2 separate regions of the Homo sapiens genome follow, and region 2 is linked to region 1. The links come from fine-mapping of genetic effects on gene expression. A gene starts in region 1. The other region holds a variant in brackets. All regions are shown on one strand. Distances are between the middles of the regions. Region 1 holds the start of TMEM220-AS1 (TMEM220 antisense RNA 1). Region 2 overlaps TMEM220-AS1 (TMEM220 antisense RNA 1).

Region 1 (10,707 bases):
GCCATGTATGATTTTGAAAGTCCTTTTTTTTTTTCAATGGGGTCTTGCTCTGTCACCCAGGCTGGAATGCAGTGGTGCAAATCACAGCTCACTGCATCCTCGAGCTCCTGGACTCAAGCAATCCTCCCGCCTCAGCCTCCCAAGAAGCTATGACCACAGGCACATGCCACCATACCCAGCTAATTTTTTAAAATTTTTTTGTAGAGATGGAGTCTTGCTCTGTTGCCCAGGATGTCTTGAACTCCTGGGCTCAAGTGATCCTCTCACTTTGACCACCCAAAGTACTGGGATTACAGGTGTGAGCCACCACACCCAGCCTTGAAAACTTAACTTTGTCATAAGGAGTGGAGGCATTTTTTTATTCCCTGCATACAGTCTGATTGACTTTATCTCCCCAATGTCACTCATTCGTGCTTCTTTCCCTCCATGGCCACTGCTACCCTGTTAGCCCTGGCCAGCATCATCTCTCTCCTGGCCTACTGCAAGCACCTCATGGCCAGTCTCTGCTTCTTCTCTGGGCTCTCCCCAGTGCATCCTCCTCCACGGGGCAGCCCAAGCACACCTCCCATCATGCTCTCCCCACTCAGTGCTCCAGGGGCTCTTCAGCACACTTGGGATAAAACCAAACTTTTTTTTTTTTTTTTGAGATGGAGTTTCACTCTGTTGCCCAGGCTGGAGTGCAATGGCGTGATCTCGGCTCACTGCAACCTCCGCCTCTTGGGTTCAGGTGATTCTCCTGCCTCAGCCTCCTGAGTAGCTGGGACTATAGGCATGCGCCACTGTGCCTGGCTAATTTTGTATTTTTAGTAGAGATGGGGTTTCACCATGTTGGTCAGGCTGGTCTTGAACTCCTGACCTCAGATGATCCATCTGCCTCGGCCTCCCAAAGTGCTGGGATTACAAGCGTGAGCCACCACACCCAGCCAGGATAAAACCAAACTCTTTACCTGCATTGTGCTAGCCTCATCTATGTCTACTTGTACTCTCATTCTTTGCCAGGCCCTGAAGACCTTCAGGATTTGGTCTTCTCATAAGCACTTCTCTCTCGGCTTTAAGCACTGGTCCATAAAGTCTTCACCTGTCCTCACCCATTCATCTTTCAGGGCACACCTGAAAATCACCTCCTCAGGAGGTTTCTGGAACCCCTGGGAAGAGGTCAGATTCTCTGGTTTCACACATTCCCATAGCAGCCTCACTTCTCCTTCTCAGCATCACCACCATTGTTGGCTGGAACCCCTACCTATTCGTGTAATTATTGTTTGGCCTGTAAGCTCTACAAGGGCAAACACCGTGTCCCGTGAGGTCACAGTCACATCCTCAGTTATTAGCATAGTGCCTGACACGTAGGAAGTCTTGAATAAATGGACAGAATAAATGGATAGAATAAATGGCTCACTGAGTGTTTCATGCCAATGAATAGGGTGGATATAAATACACGCAGAGGGTTCATTTAACCATATTCTCCTTTCAGTGGCATAAGGGGATATTTGAGGAACATTATTCAAGCCAAGTGTTTTTCATTGTCCATCAATATGCGTAAGCTTTAAGACTTTCATAACACGGGCTATATTTTGCTAACAGTAGAAACCCAAGTCCTTCATAGAGACTAGATGGGTTTTGTAGAAGCAAATCAATCCTTGCCGTGGCGAGGTGCTTTTCTGATTTCAAATATTTTAGCAGAAGGCTGTCTAGCTCCTAGTAGAATTCGTCCACTGCTCCTAGTAGAATTCCTCCACTGTTCTGTTCCAACCCTTTCCTGCCCCAACACTTCATTCACATGGAATCAGCAGAGCCTGGAGACAGCATGGCTTGGCCTTTGCTGATCTGGTGTGCTGGACAGAGGGAGGTAGACGGCATGGGCAGCAGTTTCTGATCCTTGTAATCCTTGTTCCCAATATGTCACCTTGGGAGCATCACCAGCACACACACACTCTGGACATAGAGCACAGGCAGGAGCCACTCACTGGTGATGACCCTGTTTCAGACTTTGTCCGGCCTCCACCCCTGCCACATTCCGGAGTAGCTGACCACACCTGGAAGGACAGATAATGGAGACTACTAAAAGGAAAACAAGTCTATAAAAGAGAATGGCATGGGCATTCCATTGATACACACTTTGAAATGCACCTGGCTCAGAGAGCCACATGTTCTCCACTCTGTAGGCCAGCTAGGTGGGAAGCCAAAGTCTCCAAAATTGGCCTTCTGGAATCACAGCAAGGGGAGGGTTGAGCCTGTGAAATTTTCAACCCACATAAGCCCCAAAGAGGTTGGCCCGACCAAGAAATGTGAGTGTCCACATCTGGTGGAGCAAAGCACTCTCTCCAGTCTGTGTGAGGATGGACTTGGTCTACGCTTGCCTTTCAGATGACCTAACTTGAAGCCTCCAAGCCCATCAATCCTCCTTTGCTGACATTCTTCTTTTACGTACTTTCATGCATTCATTTTCTCTCTCTCAATCCTGTGACCCTGGGAGGCCATTTGTGTCTTTATATGAGCTTCCTGTCTCTGCTCCAACTCTTAGCATTGGATTAACAACCCTACTCTCAGGGAATAAGCAAGCACCTCTATTTCCAAGTTCTCAGAGGGCAGATGTCCAGCCATTCTCGGATTCCAGCGGGGAAGTGAGTCCAGCTCACCTCACTCCTGTGGCTCAATTGCTTTTATGATGCTGTCACTGACTGGGCAGCCAGGGAGTGTCCAGCAGGATGAAGGGTCCTTTGTGCTGCCCTTTCTGCAGAGGGAAGCCAGCTTTGACAAGACCCTACTGCCTTTAAAACCTCATCTTCTCTGCAGTATTGTATCATAGCCTTTTGCTAAAAAGGGAAATGAAATTACTCTTCAAGCAGAGCTGTCTGAGATATTGGATTCATTTAAACGTATTTTTCATTACTTTTCAGACTAAGCCTTCTCTTCCGTGTCTCTGCAAAGCCTGGACAAACCTATAGCAGGAGGTTTGCAAGGATTTCACACATTGCCTTAACTATTGAATCATGACTTTACAAGTCATCATTCTTTGTTGCAAATTACAAAAACCCAATTCACACGGGCTTATGTAAAGAAGAGACTCTGTTGGTTGTGAGATTCTTCCATTTTCAGGCATGGCTGGATCCAGGCTTTTAAACTTCACCTGCAGAAAGCCTTTCTCCCTGTGAGGCTTTCTCCTGACAGCTCCAGGCTCACATTCTACCAGCTCTACACATTCATCACAAAGAAAGCTTCTCTTTAATAGTGTGAGTAGGATTGCCAGATTTAGCAAATATTTGGAACACATCATTGATGATCCAAAATTCAGTTCAACTGAGGTTGTCCTTTACTGACAACCTAAGTCCCATATAGGTCCTAGGATTGAATCTGGGCAATTTGGATCCTATACCCATCCTAGACCCAATCACAGTGGTCAACAGAATGGGATATGTCAGCTGGCAGGCCAAAGTCACCTGCCTATCCCCAAAAGGAGGGGAGCACGGTCAACCCTGTAGTCCACATCCACCCATAGTGCATGTGGTAATCCACAGTACTAAAGACACTGATCCTCGAAGAAAGGGGACTGAACCCTGCAAAGGCAAAACCAACAGACGCTCACTAAGGTGACTTTGAAAGTCCCAGCCGGGTGCAGTGGCTCATGCCTGTAATCCCAGCACTGTGGGAGGCCGAGGCAGGCAGATCATGAGGTCAGGAATTCGAGACCAGCCTGGCCAATATGGTGAAACTCCATCTCTACTAAAAAAAATACAAAAATTAGCCCAGCATGGTGGTGGGCGCCTGTAGTCCCAGCTACTCTGGAGGCTGAGGCAGGAGAATCACTTGAACCCAGGAGGCAGAGGTTGCAGTGAGCTGAGATCGTGCCACTGCACTCCAGCCTGGGCAACAGAGCAAGACTTTGTCTCAAAAAAATAGAAATAAAAAAAGAAAGTCCCAGACAACAGTGAAAACTATAAAACTTCATGGTGGTTGTATGGCATTCAAGAGCTTAAAAGCACTTCCATGCCATTGTTTCCTTGTGGGTATTATAATCATTCCCTGTATTAATTTGCTAGGACTGTCCCAACAAAGTACCACAGTCTAGGTGGCTTAAACAACGGAAATTTATTTTCTCACAGTTCTGGAGGCTGGAAGTCCAAATTCAGGATGTTGGTAGGGTTGGTTTCTCATGAGGCCTCTCCCCTTGGCTTGCAGACGGCCGTCTTCTCCCTGTGTGCCCATGTGGTCTTCCCTCTGTAACTGTCCCCTCTTCGTATCAGGACACTAGTCATATTGGATTAGGGTCCACCCTATAACCTCATTTTAACTTAATCATCTCTGTCAAGTCCCTGTCTGCAAATGCAGTCCCATTTTGAGGCACTGGGGGTTAGGGCTTCAGCATATGAATTGGGGGTGCAGGGGGAATGCAAGTCAGCCCCTAGCACTCTCGCTCTCATTTTTTTCTTTTATGTAAGGAAAAGCACAGTGAGAATAGTCTTCGCTTGTTTCCAATCCCAGGGCTGATTTAGCTGTGGAACTCCACCCAGTGCTGGTCCCCGCTGTCCCCACCCCACCTCTGCAAACACGGGTGCCCACCCCCGCCAGCCGCCAGGCTCCCTGCCTAGTCCCGGCACGGGACCTTCACGGTCCCAGCACCAGGCACAGAGCAGACAACGTTCTTGAAATAAGTGTTTCGTGAAAAGAATGAAACTGAGAGGGAAAGAAAAAAAAAACTAGACAGTTTTAGGAGATTTAGCTCAAAGGAAAAGAGGACAGGCACAGAAGCTCCTGATTTGAAGCGATAAAGACTCTTTAGAACAGCAGAAATGAGGCCTATGGATGTGTAAATGAGCCCGGGGAGGAACTAAGCAGAAGGGCGAATTACAAAACAGAAAAAGACCAGACAGACTAGGGGAGAACAGTGAATATTTCAGTGTCTTCGGTTCATAAGAAATTCATGAGCAATTTTGGAAATTTTGTTGGTTTTGGTGGTGGGAGAGAATTGTAAATATGTATAATATGTAAATATCTTTTATAATAAAAGCCCATGAAGATAAATGAGCCTGTCTGCCGAAAAGCTGTGAGCCGTATAAGATGTTAATATAACTGTCGTCACTCTAGAAATTACCATAATGCTTACAGGGATTTGAAAGTTCCTGAGCTTTGGAAGGAAATGCATAAATACTAAACAGAACACACACACACACACACACACACACACACACACACACACACACATCTCTTTTTCTTTCTCTTTCTTATTTTTGTAAAAACAATTTTTATCCTTTTTTTTTTGAGGAGTCTCGCTTTGTTGCCCAGGCTGGAGTGCAGTGGCACAATCTGGGCTCACTGCAACCTCCGCCGCCCGGGTTCAAGCAATTCTCCTGCCTCAGCCTCCTGAGTAGCTGGGATTACAGGCTCCCGCCACCACGCCCGACTAATTTTTTCGTATTTTTAGTAGAGATACGGGGTTTCACCATGTTGGCCAGGCTGCTTTCGAACTCCTGACCTCAGGTGATCCGCCCACCTCGGCCTCCCACAGTGCTGGGATTACAGGCGTGAGCCACTGCGCCCAGCCCTTTCTTTCCTTCTTTCTTTTTCTTTCTTTCTCTTTCTTCCTCTCTCCCCTCCCGCCTGCCTTCCTTCCTTTTTTCCTTCTTTTTTTTCTTTCTTCTTTTTTTTTTTTTTTGTGAGGAAGGTAGCTTTAGTGAAAACAGGGTTTGGAGTTGAACCTATACGGGTTCAAATTCGACTTCCGTCCACCACCGAGACCTGCGCTCCCTGAGGGACTCGCTTTCCCATCCGCGAAACCAGGACGGCGCCGCCTACACCCCGCGGCGTTCGGGGCGGGCTGAATGGGTCGCTGAGTGGGGGCTACACCCACGCCCTTCGCTCCCCGCCCCCGGGCGGAGCGACGGCCACGGCAGTGTCCCCAAGGCACCGAAACCGAGGCGGGGGTCTCGGTCCCTCCGCGCAAGGAGGAAGGCGGACCGTACGTGGCAGGACTCACCGCCCCGCACGTGGCAGGACTCACCGCCCCGCGCCGTGTTCTCCGAGCCATGGCGCCAGCGCTGTGGCGGGCCTGCAACGGACTCATGGCCGCCTTCTTCGCGCTGGCGGCCTTGGTGCAGGTCAGGCGGCCGCGGTGGGAGGGGGACCCGCCCGGCTCCCAGCTCCGCCCCCTGGCCTAGCGGGCCGTGTAACTGACTAGCGGGCAGAGTCGCAGGGGCGCACAGTTAGTGGGGAGGACGGGACTTGGGCTTTCTGCTTGGGGAGCCCCCACTTTCTCCCCCGTCTAAGAGACGCGGATGTGTTCATGGAAGCGAGTCCCATACCAGGGCTCACACCCTGGAAGGGGCTGGTTCCGCGCGTGGAACTTCCCAGGGGACCTCAGAAGAAGCGGCCCTGGCTCCTGCGTTAACGTCCGGCCCGCGGACGACACTGAACATATCTCAGGGCCTAGGAGACGAAGCCGACCAAAACCCTTTATAGCATCATTAAACTTTTTAGTCGGCTTGGGGACCCCCTTCATAATCATTTCCCTCATTTCTTGAGACTGGTGGGGGTGGAGGGCCCTTAAAATACCCGTTCTGGGTTGGCGAGTCCTCTCCAGAGCTCCCGTGAAGGCTTTTCAAAAATGTGTGGCTGCCTGTTAAAAACATCTGTTGTGTCAGCCAGAAACCCCTTCACCCGTCCTCATCTGGACTATATCCTGTTCAGATTTTGTACCCTCGATGCCTATTGCAGTGTCTGGCACTTAACAAATTAATAAAAAATGTGCTTAAATGAATTTAAAAGGAATGGAACAGCACAGGATGTCTGCTAACACCTTGGTATTCTGGCGTTCCAGGTAAATGACCCAGATGCAGAGGTGTGGGTGGTGAGTATGAGCCGCTTCCAGGCTTTCCTCCGTTTGGAAGAATTGGGGAACGGCACAAAACACACGGTTTTATGTCTTTACCCCTCCTCCCTGCTTAATTTTCTGAGAAACTTAAAAATCAAACCCTTGGGAAGCGCTTTTTCCTAAAATATTAATAGGCAGGATCAGAGTTCTAATGTAATGTGTGTGTGAATTTCGAACTTTCTGGAAACAGGTCTTTCTGCAGTATTCCCTTTGGTTAGATGGCCCAACTGAGGACTTTCTTGAGGACCTAGAGTAGGCCTCTCAAGATCAGTTGAACAATTCCTTATGAGTTTCTAGCCAGACACTCAATGCAAACCTTTGACCGGAAAATAACAGGCTTAAGTTCTGAGGTTCTGCTAATTCAGTGACTTATATTTCTAGAAAGTATTAACTCCTGGCTGGGCAAGGTGGCTCACGCCTGCAATCTCAGCACTCTGGGAGGCCAAGGCGGGTGGATCACTTGAGGTCAGGAGTTCTAGATCAGCCTGAGCAACATGGTGAAACCCCGTCTCCACCAAAAAATACAAAAATTAGCCAGGCGTGGTGGCATGCGCCTGTAGTCCCCAGCTACTAGGGAAGCTGAAGCAGGAGACTCGCTGGAACCCAGGAGGCAGAAGTTGCAGTGTGCTGAGATCGTGCCACTGCACTCCAGTCTGGGCGACAGAGTGAGACTCCATCTCAAAAAAAAAAAAGCAAAGAAAAAAAAGAAAAAAAAAAAGCAAAGAAAAGTATTAAATCCTGTAAAACCTACAGTCTTCATATAAGCAAGGCTCTGATTTGAACCATTTGGAGGAGGGGGCCATTGTTCCATACATCTTCTAAATATCTTTTTTTTTTTTTCTTTTTGAGACGGAGTTTTGCTCTTGTTGCCCAGGCTGGAGTGCAATGGCGCAATCTAGGCTCACCGCAACCTCTACCTCCCAGGTTTGAGTGATTCTTCTGCCTCAGTGTCCCAAGTAACTGGGATTACAGGCATGCGCCACCACACCCAGCTAATTTTGTATTTTTAGTAGAGACAGGGTTTCTCCATGTTGGTCAAGCTGGTCTTGAACTCTCGACCTCAGGTGATCCACCTGCCTCAGCCTCCCAAAGTGCTGGGATTACAGACATGAGTCACCGCGCCCGGCTCTAAATATCTTTTATCTTCCAAAATATCTGAATTTTGCCCAGTTTCTCTCAATATAGATACACAAGACTGTACAGTACACCAAGGAGATGACTCTTAAGCTTTAGAATAATATTGACAGAGGAGCAACAAGGATGATGGTATCTGGAATTATAACATGAAATTCTATCCAGGTTTTGTTTTTTTAGTGCAGTAAAACCACATTCTGATATTTACTATCCAGATCAGTATGCCTCTGAATCAAATCAAACTGCCTTTGCCTTGGCACCCTGGTCCGTATCTTGAATTCCAAATATTATTTCCCTGCAGACAAGTCTCAGACATCCAGCTTAATGGTGAATTTCCAAAAGACTGCTGCGTATATTCACCTGCATGTCACACTGCTCCTCAGATATGCCCAAGGACCTACCTAGCATCTTTCCCTCCAAAATCTACTTATCCTGACTCACCCATTTCTGTTATCAGCAGAATCATTCTCTGAGTCATTCTTGTTCAGAATCTCAGTCATCTTTATCATCTCTCTGTTCCTTACCACTGCCTTGGAGAGCCCCTCAAAACACAAAATAAATTTGAGTCGGGCATGGTGGCAGGCATCCGTAGTCCCAGTTACTCAAGAGGCTGAGGCAGGAGGCTCACTTGAGCCCAGGAGTTCGAGGCCAGCCTGTGCAACATAGCGAGACCCCCCCCATCTCCAAAAAATTAATTAAACAATCGAGGTCTAATTGCTTATCTCTATAGTACCTGCACATTTTACCTTTCATTCATGCTCAGACGATATAATAGGAGGAATAGACCCCATGTCCCCATAGACATCCTCCCTCATTCACAGTTCAGCCCTCCACTACCTCCCACATGGACCCCTGGCACCTGCCTTAACATCTTCTGATATAAGCACAGAAATTGATGTGATTAGACAGCTACATTGTTTGGAAAGTCCCCATCCTTCTTATAAACCCACCCTCCCTACTTATTCCCTGCCAACAACACACACAATAGTAAGTTTGGCTAGAGCCTGCTTGTTATGAACAAGGCTTAGGAATAGGGCCTCTTTAGGGCTAGTCTTCTCATTTCCAAACACTTATCAGCAGTTCCAAAATGAAGAGCCTGACCTTATTACTGGGCACAGCTGATTGTGTATGCATTATTAGAAAACTTTCTGTGGTCTCACAGAGATGCAGTACTGGCCTGGATGGTCCATTGGGTCCAAAGCCAGCAGGGCCATCTAGCATCGTGGCTGCTCCTGCCCTACTTTTCAAAGAACATTTTCTTTTATGCAAGTGGGGAAAGGCCATTTGGGCATGAAAGTTGCTTGGGAGCGACTGGAAAGTTAGTGTGTCTTAAGACCAAAACCCTGTGCTCAGTGTTAGAGCTCAAAGATAAATGAGCTTCTGGAATAGCCTATAGTCTAGGAGGAAGGTAGATAAAATTGCAGGCAGACGTGCTAAGTGCCACAAAAGGAGAATCTACCACTTTCTCAATCACCATTGAAACTTAGAGGCAAATCATGGGGCACAGCAGCCACTGATCTCATCTTTCTTTACTTCCTGTATCTCTGAACATCTCATATATTGGGCATACATCTTAACTCATGTAATTTCCTCCCTTTTTGCTAACAGGTGGTGTACACAATCCCTGCAGTACTGACCCTGCTTGTTGGACTTAACCCTGAAGTCACAGGTATAAGCCTTGCATTCTAAATGGAGAGACAGCAAATCAGATTTCCTCATAATAATGAGGGTCTATCTGCCCAACTCCCAGGAGTAAAACGGGGCTCTCTAGGCCTTTCTTCTCATTTCTGATAATAAAAGGGGCTAATTCTAATCATCCTTACCCATCTTCAGGAAAACGTCAGAAGGATCTGCTATAAAACAGCGTCTTCTGTTTTATAGAAGTGAGAGGACAGATTCTTCTTCACTTTCTTTAAAACAGTTTCTCCTAGTGGGGCTCGAATGTTCTCAGGGGCCTTAGAATAAAGACTAATGAGTCCCACCTTAGTGGGGAAAATTCTAGTTCCCTAGATGCCTGGGCTCCTTGTATAGGCAGCTAGAACTCCGTCTGCATCTTTAAGGTAGATCAGTTAGGGCTCCTTTAGATACAAGCTAGAAAATAACTCAAATGTGCTATGAGCTGAGAAGAAAAGGTATTGGTACAGTTTACTGAAAAGGTGAAGGGTGGTGCTGGCTTCAGACTGGTGGACTCGGAACTTTACCTTCTCTCCACCTCTCAGTTCCACCATCTGTCATGCTAACTTCACTCTTGGGCTCCACACAGTGGCCCTGCAGCCCCCCATTCACATCTTCACGATGCCACGTCCAGTGGAATATGGACTGTGTTTCTTCACTCTACCAAAGTCTCAGAATGCAGTTGCTGGCTCTGATTGCTTGTCCGTTTGTGCTGATCCAAATCACTGTGGCTGAGGAGATAACATGTATTGATTGACCTAGCCAAAGTCCAGTTCACTGGGAAACATGGACTGTGAGTGTGGACATGGTGGATCCCCAGAGAAAATAAGGGTAATCATCCTAGGAAGGGGAGCTGCTGAACAACCCAAACAAGAAATGGCCACTGAAGTTTATAATTAGTGCTGTGACCTCTGTGTTGTCCTAAAACAAAAAGGGGCGATGGGGCTGAGGGAGTCTGAATGTCTTTTCTGAAAGCAGACTATGGCAAAACATACAAAAAGATCATTTTTTTTTTCTGTGGGCTGTGATTCCGT
Region 2 (10,707 bases), 22 kb before region 1:
GTAAGCAACGCCCACTCTGTTGACCTTGTGCCTCTGGGTGGTGATTAACGAGCTCAAGTTTCGAAGTGCCCTGCAACTATTTGGTGCTGGACAGGTGTAAAGAATTAGAACCAGACAACATTGCCATCTCCCTTAAGTCCTTAGGATGCCGTTTATTCATTGGCTCACTCAGAAAATCCTTACTGTGAACTTCCAGGGAAGCACCGTGGTGCTAAATTTGGCTATAAAGAGTACAGAGATGAATACTCCATGGTTCTGAAACCACGCACACGCACAACTGTCATCCACAGTCAACTGCAATCTATGATCCCCCTTCACAGATGAGGGAGCATTTGTGTGGATGTGAAAAAGTCAAGGTGGGATTTGGATTGAGATGGGCCAGGAGATAGGAGGAGGACAGTAACCAGGCAGAGGGGACAGGCATGAGCAATGTCCCAGAAGAGGCACCCTTGCTAGACTACTCAGTTGCTGCAAACAGCCTGCCATGCATTCCTCGTGCTCTGGACAAGAGAAACGGGGTGGGGCCAGCTGAGGCCTCCTTGATGGGGGCAGAGGCTTAGCTCAAGGAGGTATGACAATCAGGGCACAGACTTGAGCTGATACATAGCTGGAGCACTTAGGAAGGAATCTGGGGGGCTTAAAAGCTGTCCCATTAAAGGAAGGGGAACAGAGTAGACTTGTGACTCAAAAATAGGTATTGAATGTCTTGTCTTCAAAGCCCCCTCAAACCACACCAGCAGGACTGGGTTAGAGCCTCCTCTGTGTCACCCCTGTGCTTCCCCAAGGGTAATTATCCCTTCCTTGCTTGTTTTCCCCAAACTCTGAAAATCCAAGAGGACAAGAACAGTATCTTGTTCACTGTGCCTTTTACATGGTGCCTTGGGTTCAGCAGATGCTCCATAAATGTCAAATGAATGAAAGAACCAGCCCAACGTCCCTCTTCCCCAGTCCTCCCCTTGACATATCAGACCCAAATGCTATGTACACTTCCACTCTGCCTCAGAATCTACCCGCTTGGTTCCTTCTCCCTGGGGCTGTGTGCGGAGCTCTTGTTTACCCTGTAGATAAGCAGAGCCCAGGTCTGGTCAAAGGGAGGTGACCACATGGCCGTGAACCAGGCAGTGGTGGAAAATCCCAGCCTGGCCCCAGGCTGCCGGGCCCAATGCCACCCCCAACCCCCTTCCCAGCATAGGAAACTCCTGGGGATAGAAGACGCCCTTTATTTAGCTTCAGCCTGGAGGACTACCCTTCCTTTGGATGGAAGAGAGTGGGTGGGCCCACCTGCCCCGGTCCTTCTACCACATCACATTCTACCAGACCCCTTCAGGGTCTGAAAGGGGTCGGTAGACTTTTTCTGAAAAGAGCCAGATAGTGAATGTCTCAGACTTTGCAGACCAGATGGCCTCTGTCGCAACTACTCAGTTCCACCCTTGTAGCAAGAAAGCAGCAGAAAGAAGATGACAATGAATGGGTGGGGCTGTGTGTTCCAGTGAGCCCTTATTTATAAAAACAGGTGGCTGGCCTGATTTGGCTTGAGGACAGTAATTTAGAACTTGGCCTTGCCAAGTCCCCACAGAGTCCACTCCACCCCCAGGACAAAGAGTTCTAGAGCAGTGGTTCTCAATGTTGGGGTGATTTTGCCCCCATAGGAGATATCTGGCCAGGTTTGGAGACATTTCTGGTTGTGGCATGTGGAGGAGGGTTACTACTGGCATCTGGTGGGTAGAGGCCAGGGATGCTGCCCAACATCCTACAGTGCACAGGACAGGGCACACAACAAGGAATTATCCAGCCCAGCATGTCCATAGTGCCTGGATTGAAACACCCTTCTCTAAAGCAGTGGCTCTCAGAGTGGGTCATTATCATCTGGGAAATTGTTAGAATTGCAAATCATCTACTCCTCCCCTGCACTGAATAGGAAACCCTGGGGGTGGGGCCCAGCAATGTGTGTTTTGACAGGCCTTCCAGGTGACTCTGATGCTTGCTAAAGCTTGAGAACACTGCTGAAAGAGACCAAGGGGGCCGAAGGAGAGGGAGGGAAGGAAGGCAGGACTGGCAAACTCAGAACTCCCACCATATGCCAGGTTCTAAGCCACAGAGGGGCCTCCAGGGCAGTGAGACATTGACTATTAGGAGACACAGAGAGAAGACTCAAGGTGGCAGCAGGTGGGGTGGAGGAGCATGGAGGGGGCCAACCCCAGACACAGGGCCCAGGCGAGGCTCCCAGGATGAGAAGGGCTCAGCTAAGCCTAGAGGACAGCAGTCTGGGTAGGGAGAACAAGGTGATATAGAAAGGCAGGGAAACCCGAGAGAGAGACAGAGAGAGAGAGAGAGAGAGAGAGGAAGGGAAAGAGGGGGAAGAAAGGAAAAGGAGGGGGGAGGGGGACAGAGAAAGGGAGAGAGAGAGAAAGAAAAAGGGTAGAGAGGAAGAGAGAGAAAGGGAGAAAGAGAGGGAGAAAGGGGAGAGGGAGAGAGAGGAGGAGGAAGGGTAAGAGAGAGGGAGGGAGAAAGGAAAAAAGAGAGGGCGAGAAGAAGAGAAAGGGAGGGAGAAAGAGAGGAAGGGGGAGAGGATAGAGAGGAAGAGAGAAAGGGAGAGAGGGAGGAAAAGGAAGAGGGGGAAAAAGAGAAGAAGGAAGAGAAAGAGACAGAGGAGGAGGGAGTAGAGAGGGAGAGAGAAAAAGGGAGAGAGGGAGGGAGGGAGAGTGAGGGAGAGAGGGAGAGAGCCCTCTGGGAAACTGTAAGATGTTCAGCAGCCTCTAAGAGGCAGGGTTGCGGGATGGGAGGTGGAGTGAAGCCAGACAGAGTGACAACAGCCAGGACAGAGGGGCCCTGTTGTTGGCCAAGCAGCCCACAATGGTTCTCAGCCCCTACTCAACCCATGAATCACCTGGGGAGCTTTAAAAAAAGTAGCCAATGCCCTAGTCTCATTGAAGATCCGCTGAGTCAGAAAGGCGACTGGGAGACCCGCAGGGCGGCATTCAGATGTTCTTAAAGCTCCCAGGTAATTCTTCTGGGCTGCCAGGGTGGAGAGCGCCTGAGCTGTAGCTGAGGGAAGAGGGGAGACATTCGCTCTATTTCCTTTGATTCCTGAGGCACTCCATTTTATAAATAAGAAAATCAAGGCTCAGAGAAACTAAGTGACCTTTGCAAAATCACAGAGCAAGTCGGTGATGGGACCAAGATCTCAGAGACGCGAGACACAAAGATCCCGCGGCAGGCAGGAAGAGCCCAGCAGAGCTCCTTTATCCAGCTAGGGGAGGGGCTTAGTGATACTGCGGTGTTGGACAGCAGAAAGATGATGGAGGAAGGCTCAGAGGATCTTGACTTATATCCAACCAAGGAGTGAACAGCATGGGCTTGCAGAGGCCTGGGCTTCCCAGTCAGTGGCCTTTCGGGACTCCTCTCCCCAGTGGCACAAAATGGGCTCTGCATCCACTCCTTCCCCCTAGCCTCTCTCTACAGGCTGGACCCAGGCACGCTTCACTTTTTGGTGAGGTAGGTTGTTTTGCTATGACAAATGCTTCCCTGGATGATGACAGCTAAGGGGCTGTTGGAAGCTCTTTGCGGTTTGCAAAGCGATTTCATTCAACATTAAGAGGCCTCCCATGTGCTGGCTCTGGGCTCAGATGTGGATTATACAGGTGGTCAGTTTTCCAGTGTAAGAGATGAGAATGTAATGAGATAACAATGTGAGCAAGGGTAGCCCCAGGTGTTCCAAAGGGTACCGGTAGATGAGGAAGAGGAGCCAGCTTTCTGAGTGCACGCAGACTCAGAAAGATGCTGGGAGGAGGGACAGCTTGAGAAAGGAAGAGCAGGGCCCCCAGATGGAAGAGGAGGAAGGGGAAGAAAGGCCTTTTGCATAGTCTTATTTACTTCTCACAACAATCCTGAAATGTAGGGCTGACTATTGTCTCTGTTTTATGGCTGAGAAAACTGAGGCTCAGAGAGGTTATGTAACTTACCCAAGGTCACACAGCAAGGACCTGGCAAAGCTGAGACTCAGGCTCCTCAGGAAGAATCCCACGCCCTCTGCTGGCAGCACGGAAGTGACTAGAAGTCAGAAGGGGACTTGGAGCAAGGCTTTTACCTTAGGGGCCTGCAGAAAAGCAGATAGCCATCCAGTTACTGCAGTAGCCAGAATATCTCCAGCATCCTTCTCCACACCTCCCTTCCCCATCTTAAATTTTATAATTTCTCCTTCAGAGGAAAATCAGCCAACGGAGGCAATTATTCTAAGTTTCAAATAGACATAACCCTGGGAGGTGAGAATTCTTTTTTTTCTTTCTTTCTTTGAGACGGAGTCTCACTCTATCACCCAGGCTGGAGTGCAGTGGCCTGATCTCGGACACTGCAAGCTCCGCCTCCTGGGTTCATGCCATTCTCCTGCCTCAGCCTCCCAAGTAGCTGGGACTACAGGCGCCCGCCATCACGCCCAGCTAATTTTTTGTATTTTGTTTAGTAGAGACGGGGTTTCACCATGTTAGCCAGGATGGTCTCGATCTCCTGACCTCATGATCCGCCCGCCCTGGCCTCCCAAAGTGCTGAGATTACAGGCGTGAGCCACCGTGCCCAGCCAAGAATTCTTGTATAAGTCTTTTCTTCGTGAGGGACTTCACAGGGGACTCCAAGATAACCACTCCTGTTCTTCTCCCCAGCCCTTGCCTGCCCCTGCTGATATTTTAAACTGGAAAATACTTCTGATTTGAATATTCTCCCTGTGCAAATTTTCTTCCCTGGCATACTTTCTGCTAGATTTCAAGAGGGAACCAAAGATGTGTATCTTTGCAATTTAATTAAAATGTTTTTTGCTCACTGGTTAATAAAGACAAGCTTCACCACGGCTCACACCTTTTTCTGTGAACTTTCCCAGCCATTTGAAGCATCCCCTCAATGGATAACTGGGCTGGGCAGTTATCCAAGAGAGTGGGGGACCTGTGCTGCCAGATATACAGTGGCCAGAGCCCCCAACTGCCTGAATGATGTCAGTACAGGACTCCCTAGTTGGGACCCAAATTAACCAGAAAGGAGGACATGTCGGGTGCGTTAGATGAGCAAATAGTGCAAATGTCATTCGCTCTCTACACAGAAGGAAATTGCCCAAGTAGCTGATGGTTCCCTTAATGGGTGGCTTTGAGATCATGGGAGAGAAAAATGGCAACAGTGAGCAGCCACTGTCTCCCAGGCAGCCCTTCCTGGCCAGCCCCTTGGGGAAAAAAGCACAGACTCCTGGAAACAGCCAAAGTGCCGGGATCTGCACAGTTGCCTGGAACAAAGAGGGTCAGAAAAGAGGTCAGTAGTCAGTGTCCCAAAACACATCCCTCCTGGATGATTTTCTTTATCCAAGCTGACTCACACGCCCTCACCCAGCCCCACCCAACCCCACCCAGCCGCAAACCAGCGAGTCCTTTATGTGGTTCTTAGAGTGCAGGTGTTAGGGAGATAGAGCACCTCAATCGGTCTGAGTGGTCCAGCCAGCCCGAAGTTCAAGTACAGCCTTCGCTTCAGACTTGGTTCTTAAGAGAGCATATTTTCTAGAAAAGCGGAGGAGGAGAAAACGTGAGGCGAGCAACTAGGAGGCAAGTCAGAGAGTGTTTGGAGGCAGCCAGGTGGTCCTAACAGAAAAGGGGGGCAAATCCTCGTGTCATCAAACCCTCTTTGTCTTCAGCACAGGCAATATATTTGGGGCATGTTCTTCACTTCTCAGAGCTCCACATTCTTCTTCCCAAGCTGTACAGGTGCTAAGGGTCTCCCACACCTGAGCACACAATAAAGGCTGCTCCTCCCTTGCTTCATCCTCCTCCATCACAGGTGCCTGGAAATTTCTCCTGCGTGCTTCTGCTTTACAGAAAATTCATATTAGTCCTTAGCTTTCCTGGGAGTGGATGGCTCTCCCAACCCAATAAAAAACTACTGGAGGCCAGGCGCAGTGGCTCACGCCTGTAATCCCAACACTTTGGGAGGCTGACGTGGGCGGATCACCTGAGGTCAGGAGTTCAAGACCAGCCTGGCCAACATGGTGAAA[C/T]GCCATCTCTATAAAAATACAAAAATTAGCTGGGCTTGGTGGCGGGCGACCGTAATCCCAGCTACTCTGGAGGCTGAGGCAGGAGAATCGCTTGAACCTGGGAGGTGGAGGTTGCAGTGAGCCGAGATTGTACCACTGCACTCCAGCCTGGGCAACTGAGTGAGACTCTGTCTCAAAACAAAACAAAACAAAAACTACTGGAGGTCAAGGACTGTGTTTTAAATTCCCCACTGTTGCACAGCATATTCAACCCATATCTCAACCAACTTAATATTCCCAGAGATGGGCTCAATAGATAGACACAGTAGAGATACAAAGTATACCTATTGAATGAATCAGTGAATGAATGAATGAATGTAGCCTCCATGTAGCCTCCTCCCCAGGGTCCTTTCTCTGGGCCTTTGTAGCACAGAGCTCTGAGTAATGGCTCCAGTGGGGTGGGCAGGGGCCAGGCTAAAGTTCTCCAGAGAGAAGGGTCAACAGCACATCCAGGAGCTTCCCAGGGTAAACACTGACACAATGCCCACAGTGAGCACGGAAGACTCTTTTGTCTCATCTGCCCTCTGTCTGTGGTTCATGTGCCCTGGGGCTGCTAGGATGCTGTGCTGTTGCCAGGGAACCACCTCACTGAGCATCCAGGAAAGGAGGACCTACAGTCACCGGGGGTCAGAGGCCCAGTCCTGCTCCCTGCTGCTGAGAGGACCCTGCGGGGATTTGTGATGGGATCAAATGAGCCCTCACCTGGACCATCCCTTGTACTAACTGAGAGCTTTGTCCAGTGCCCAATACAGTTTACGCACGGGATGAAATTAGAAGCCCAGGTTCTCCTAGAAAGAAACAATGGCTGCCAGTCCCTCCCCTCCAGGGAGAGAGAGCAGTGGGTGCTCAGTCCTGTCTAATGAAGAAAGTGATGGCCAGGCCGCAGCCTCAGGGAGGCTGGGAAGTGTTGAGTGGTGTTTGTGCCTTGATGTGTAATCACCAAGGGAAATGGATAAATGATTTTTCCCGCTCCCTTTTCTTCTTTAAATATTTTTTTAAGAGACAGAGTCTTGCTCTGTTGCCCAGGCCACAGTGCAGTGGCATGATGATCATGATTCACTGTAGCCTTAACCTCCTGGGTTCAAGCAGTCCTCCCACCTCGGCCTCCCTAGTAGCTGGGACTATAGGCATGAGCCACCACGTCCAGCTAATTTTTTAATTTTTTGTAGAGATGGGGTCTCACTGTGTTGCCCAGGCTGGTGGTCTTGAACTCCTGGCCTCAAGTGATCCTCCTGCCTCTGCCTCACAAAGTGTTAGGACTGCAGAAGTGAGCCACCATGCCCACCCCCCTCTCCCTTTTTAAAACCACTAATTCTCCACCAGGGGTGATTCTGACTCCCCCTCCTCCCCAGGGTCATTTGGCCACATCTGGAAACATTTTTGATTGCCACTCAATGCTGGTAAGATTATCCAAGTCATGACGAAACGCAAATACCCTTATAAATGATCCCACCACCAGGAATTTGTTTTTTAAATCCTTTCAACAGCCTGAAGTGTGGTCATTATTATCCCGATTTTACAAATGAGGAAACTGAGGCACAAAACGCTGAAGGGGCTTGTCGAAGAGCACGGTTGCAGGTTGGGTTCCCAGAGAAGCAGAACCTGAGACAAAGCTCTGCGTGCAGGACTGCCAGGAAGAGATGGGAAACATGGAGCTGCGATGCCGTCTTAATGAAGATTTCAGTCAACCCTGAGAGGAATTTTGGAGCTGAGCTGACCCTTTGGAGTTATCTCAAGTTGTGTAGAGGGAACCAGGCCTTTATACCCTGGCTTGGATCAGTCCCTGATCACAGGCTGCCCCTGGAAAGAGGCATGACTTTGGGAAGGGCTATTTTTTTCAGGTGAGGTGATCCAGGGCGGACGGCTGAAAGCCACCTCTGGCAGCACTCCCAGAAGCTGGGCAAGTAAGTCCTTCATTCCTGAAGAGGGGTCTGGGTGCATTTCACAGCATCTACCAGTCACCTTACTAATAAGGCCAGAGGTGGAATTGTGTCCAGATCCTCTGCTCACCCCCTTCCCTTTGCCATCAAGTCTCTGTCCTCAGTCTCTGATTTACAAGGGGATCAAGAGGCCCCAGGAAAAGAACTCAAGTAGTCTCCATGACTGGAATTCTAGCTGGACTAGAACTCAGCTGCAGGAGTGAGGGCTGCGCAAGAGAAGCCCAATTGTAGGGCTTGCGACAGTGCAGCTGCAGGGCCCAGAAAGGAAGAGAACTCGCTCCTGGTCACAGAATGGAACCACCCTTTATACCCTCAGACCCCATAGTCTGACTTGGCCCCCTACACTCTTTCCCCTTCCAACCCCTACAGACCCTTGCAGGATGGTTCCATCTCATTGCTGCAGGACTCAGAACCTAGAATTTACATAATCATGGGATTTTCGCACTGGAAGTTAGTAATCTCCAGTGTTTTCCCCTGAGGAGGTGAAACCCAGGTGTGTACCGTGTGTTCTCAATAACACATGAGTAACTCCTCTGGGGACACAAAGCTAGGGTGCCACTGGAACCCAGGTCTCCCAACTCCAAGGTCCTGGCACTGGGCACCACGACATGCTGCTGCAGGCAGCAAGACAGAGAGACAGTACTGCTTTACCGGGCACCACCCTGCCCTTTCCTCTCTGTGCCCAGCCCCCATACTCCGCAAACAGTGCGGAGGTGAAGAGATCCCCTTCGCTCCTGTGCTCTGCTCATTCCTGCTCACTCTCGGGTCTCCTACTCCCTTGGAGGCTTTTTCAGACCCCCTTCCCCAAAGGCTAGGTCAGTTTCCACCCCACTCCTCATTTTATTCTCTCATGACATCCTGTAATAATCCATCACGCATATTACTGTTGTGGTTAGTCAACTACTGCACAATTGCTTAGTCAATGTCTGTCTCATTAGAACATAAGCTCCCATGACTGTGGGACCAGAGCTGTGTTATCCACCAGTGTGCCCTCTACCACCAAGAATGACTGAACTAATGAAGAGTCCATGCTGTCCTGTATGTTCTCCAATTCTTTCATTTCTTAGCCACGGTTGTCCTGACTTCTTAGACAAATGTCAAATGCCTCAAAGGCACAGAATGAGATTTAATGAGTGTCCCCACCTCCTCAGCACCTAGTCCAATGTCAAGCACAGAGTGGCCAATCGCTGATTGATTGATGATTGCTTGCTGCCTGAACCTCCGGAACTCCCCTGCCGAGAAAGGGAGTGAGGGATTCTTGTGCTTCTCCAAAGACTGAAGGGCAGAGGCCTCAGTAATTTCTGGACTGAGCTTAGGCAGAGAGGAGGTAATTAGCTCAAATCACATTAACATGGTTCTCAGGAAATGGCTGCTGAATTAGATATTCCAGCCACAGCAGCCACCTCTATTTAATAGGACATTAATGCTCATTCTGAGCAATTACTGTATTTGCAATGGTTTCTTAATGTTCAGCTTCTGGAGCCCTGAAAGGAAAGGGCTTTGTGCTTCCAGTAACCAGCTCTCCACCGTAAGGCAGAGGAATGAGCTGGGGAAATGCTCCCGGCCAGATCAGGGAGCCAACGCCCCAGACAGTCTGGAGAAGAGGCCAGGGACTCCAGGCTCCTGTGCCTGGCTTCTCCGACCAGCCGATACCCCCAGGGCCTCGCTAAGGGTGGGCCTATACAGGCAGAGGCAGGAAGGTCTCTATGCACAAGTGAGCCTCACTGAACCTTCTCTACTGCTCCCTGCAGTTATGCAGCTGCCTAAAGCCAGTCCCTGCTAAGTGCTCCTAACAGCATCCAGTACCTCTCCCAGCACAATGCTTACCATACTTATCATTTTGATTCTAATAGCATTTCCCCCCTTGATTTTAGAGTAATTAAGGTTCACTGCAAAAATAAAGCAAAGTGTAAAATAAGCCAACAGATCACATCTCTAATGTTTTCCTGTGCATAGGCACACATAAACATATGTAAAGACTGGCTTTAAAACAATGGAGCCAATCCAATCATCCACTCTCTGCTTTGGGACAATGGAGTGACCACTTTGTTTTAATTGCTTACGTAATTATCTGCCTTTTCCTATGAGACGTAGCCTCAGCGTGGGCAGCACCCAGCCAGGCTCACTACTGCTTGTTGGCAGAGTACCTAGCACATGGCAGTCACCCCACAAATGATAGCTGGCTAGATGGCCTGTCAGGTAGCATCCTTTGGGTTGCAAGCAACCCAATTAAAACTGGCTAAAGGAATGTAATAGCTAAAAAATCTTGGATGTTCAGGAATAGTTCTAGCTTCAAATGAGACTTGATCCAGTAACTCAAACCATGTCATCCAGTATCTAATCAACCTTTCCCTCTCTCTCTGTACCTGTCTCCCACTCCATCCTATCTTGTGTGGCTCCTTGGGTTGGCCCAGAACACCCAGGCAGACAAGATCTTGTTCTTACACCACATGGTCCAGATAAGAACCAGCTATTCTCTCATTAGCCTAAATTGGGGTGCACGACTTTCTCTGAAGCCATTCCAGTGGCCAGTGCAATGGCTAGATCTGGGGTGGGGTCCATCCCACCAAAGCCCCATGGGAGGAACTGGAGAAGGGAAAGGAAAACAGATACTCAGTAGCAACAAAATACGAAGAGATGGGTGGACACGTAGGCAGGTGGATGGAAGAATGAATCAGTGACTGAGGAGAGCAGCAAGAGGAGCTA

Evidence for each region.
Region 2: its variant is fine-mapped to the expression of TMEM220-AS1 in whole blood (TOPMed, PIP above 0.99).

What each region holds. Positions count from the first base shown.
Region 1 is chr17:10,725,165-10,735,871 of GRCh38, reverse strand. TMEM220-AS1 (TMEM220 antisense RNA 1) reads right to left here and starts at 6,095. Exons shown (of 4, transcript NR_073458.1): 1 at 5,972-6,095. It overlaps TMEM220 (transmembrane protein 220), which reads left to right and starts at 5,849. Exons shown (of 6, transcript NM_001004313.3): 1 at 5,849-6,092; 2 at 6,812-6,841; 3 at 9,608-9,668. The coding sequence starts at 6,021. RefSeq lists silencers at 1,642-1,827, 5,791-6,030, 6,041-6,210 and enhancers at 5,224-5,810, 5,811-6,397.
Region 2 is chr17:10,747,618-10,758,324 of GRCh38, reverse strand. All of the region lies in intron 1 of TMEM220-AS1 (TMEM220 antisense RNA 1), which reads right to left. Among named protein-coding and RNA genes, the nearest start is that of TMEM220, 23 kb to the right of the region's middle. RefSeq lists enhancers at 3,859-4,153, 9,118-9,667. The variant C/T (reference allele first, on the strand shown) is at 6,023.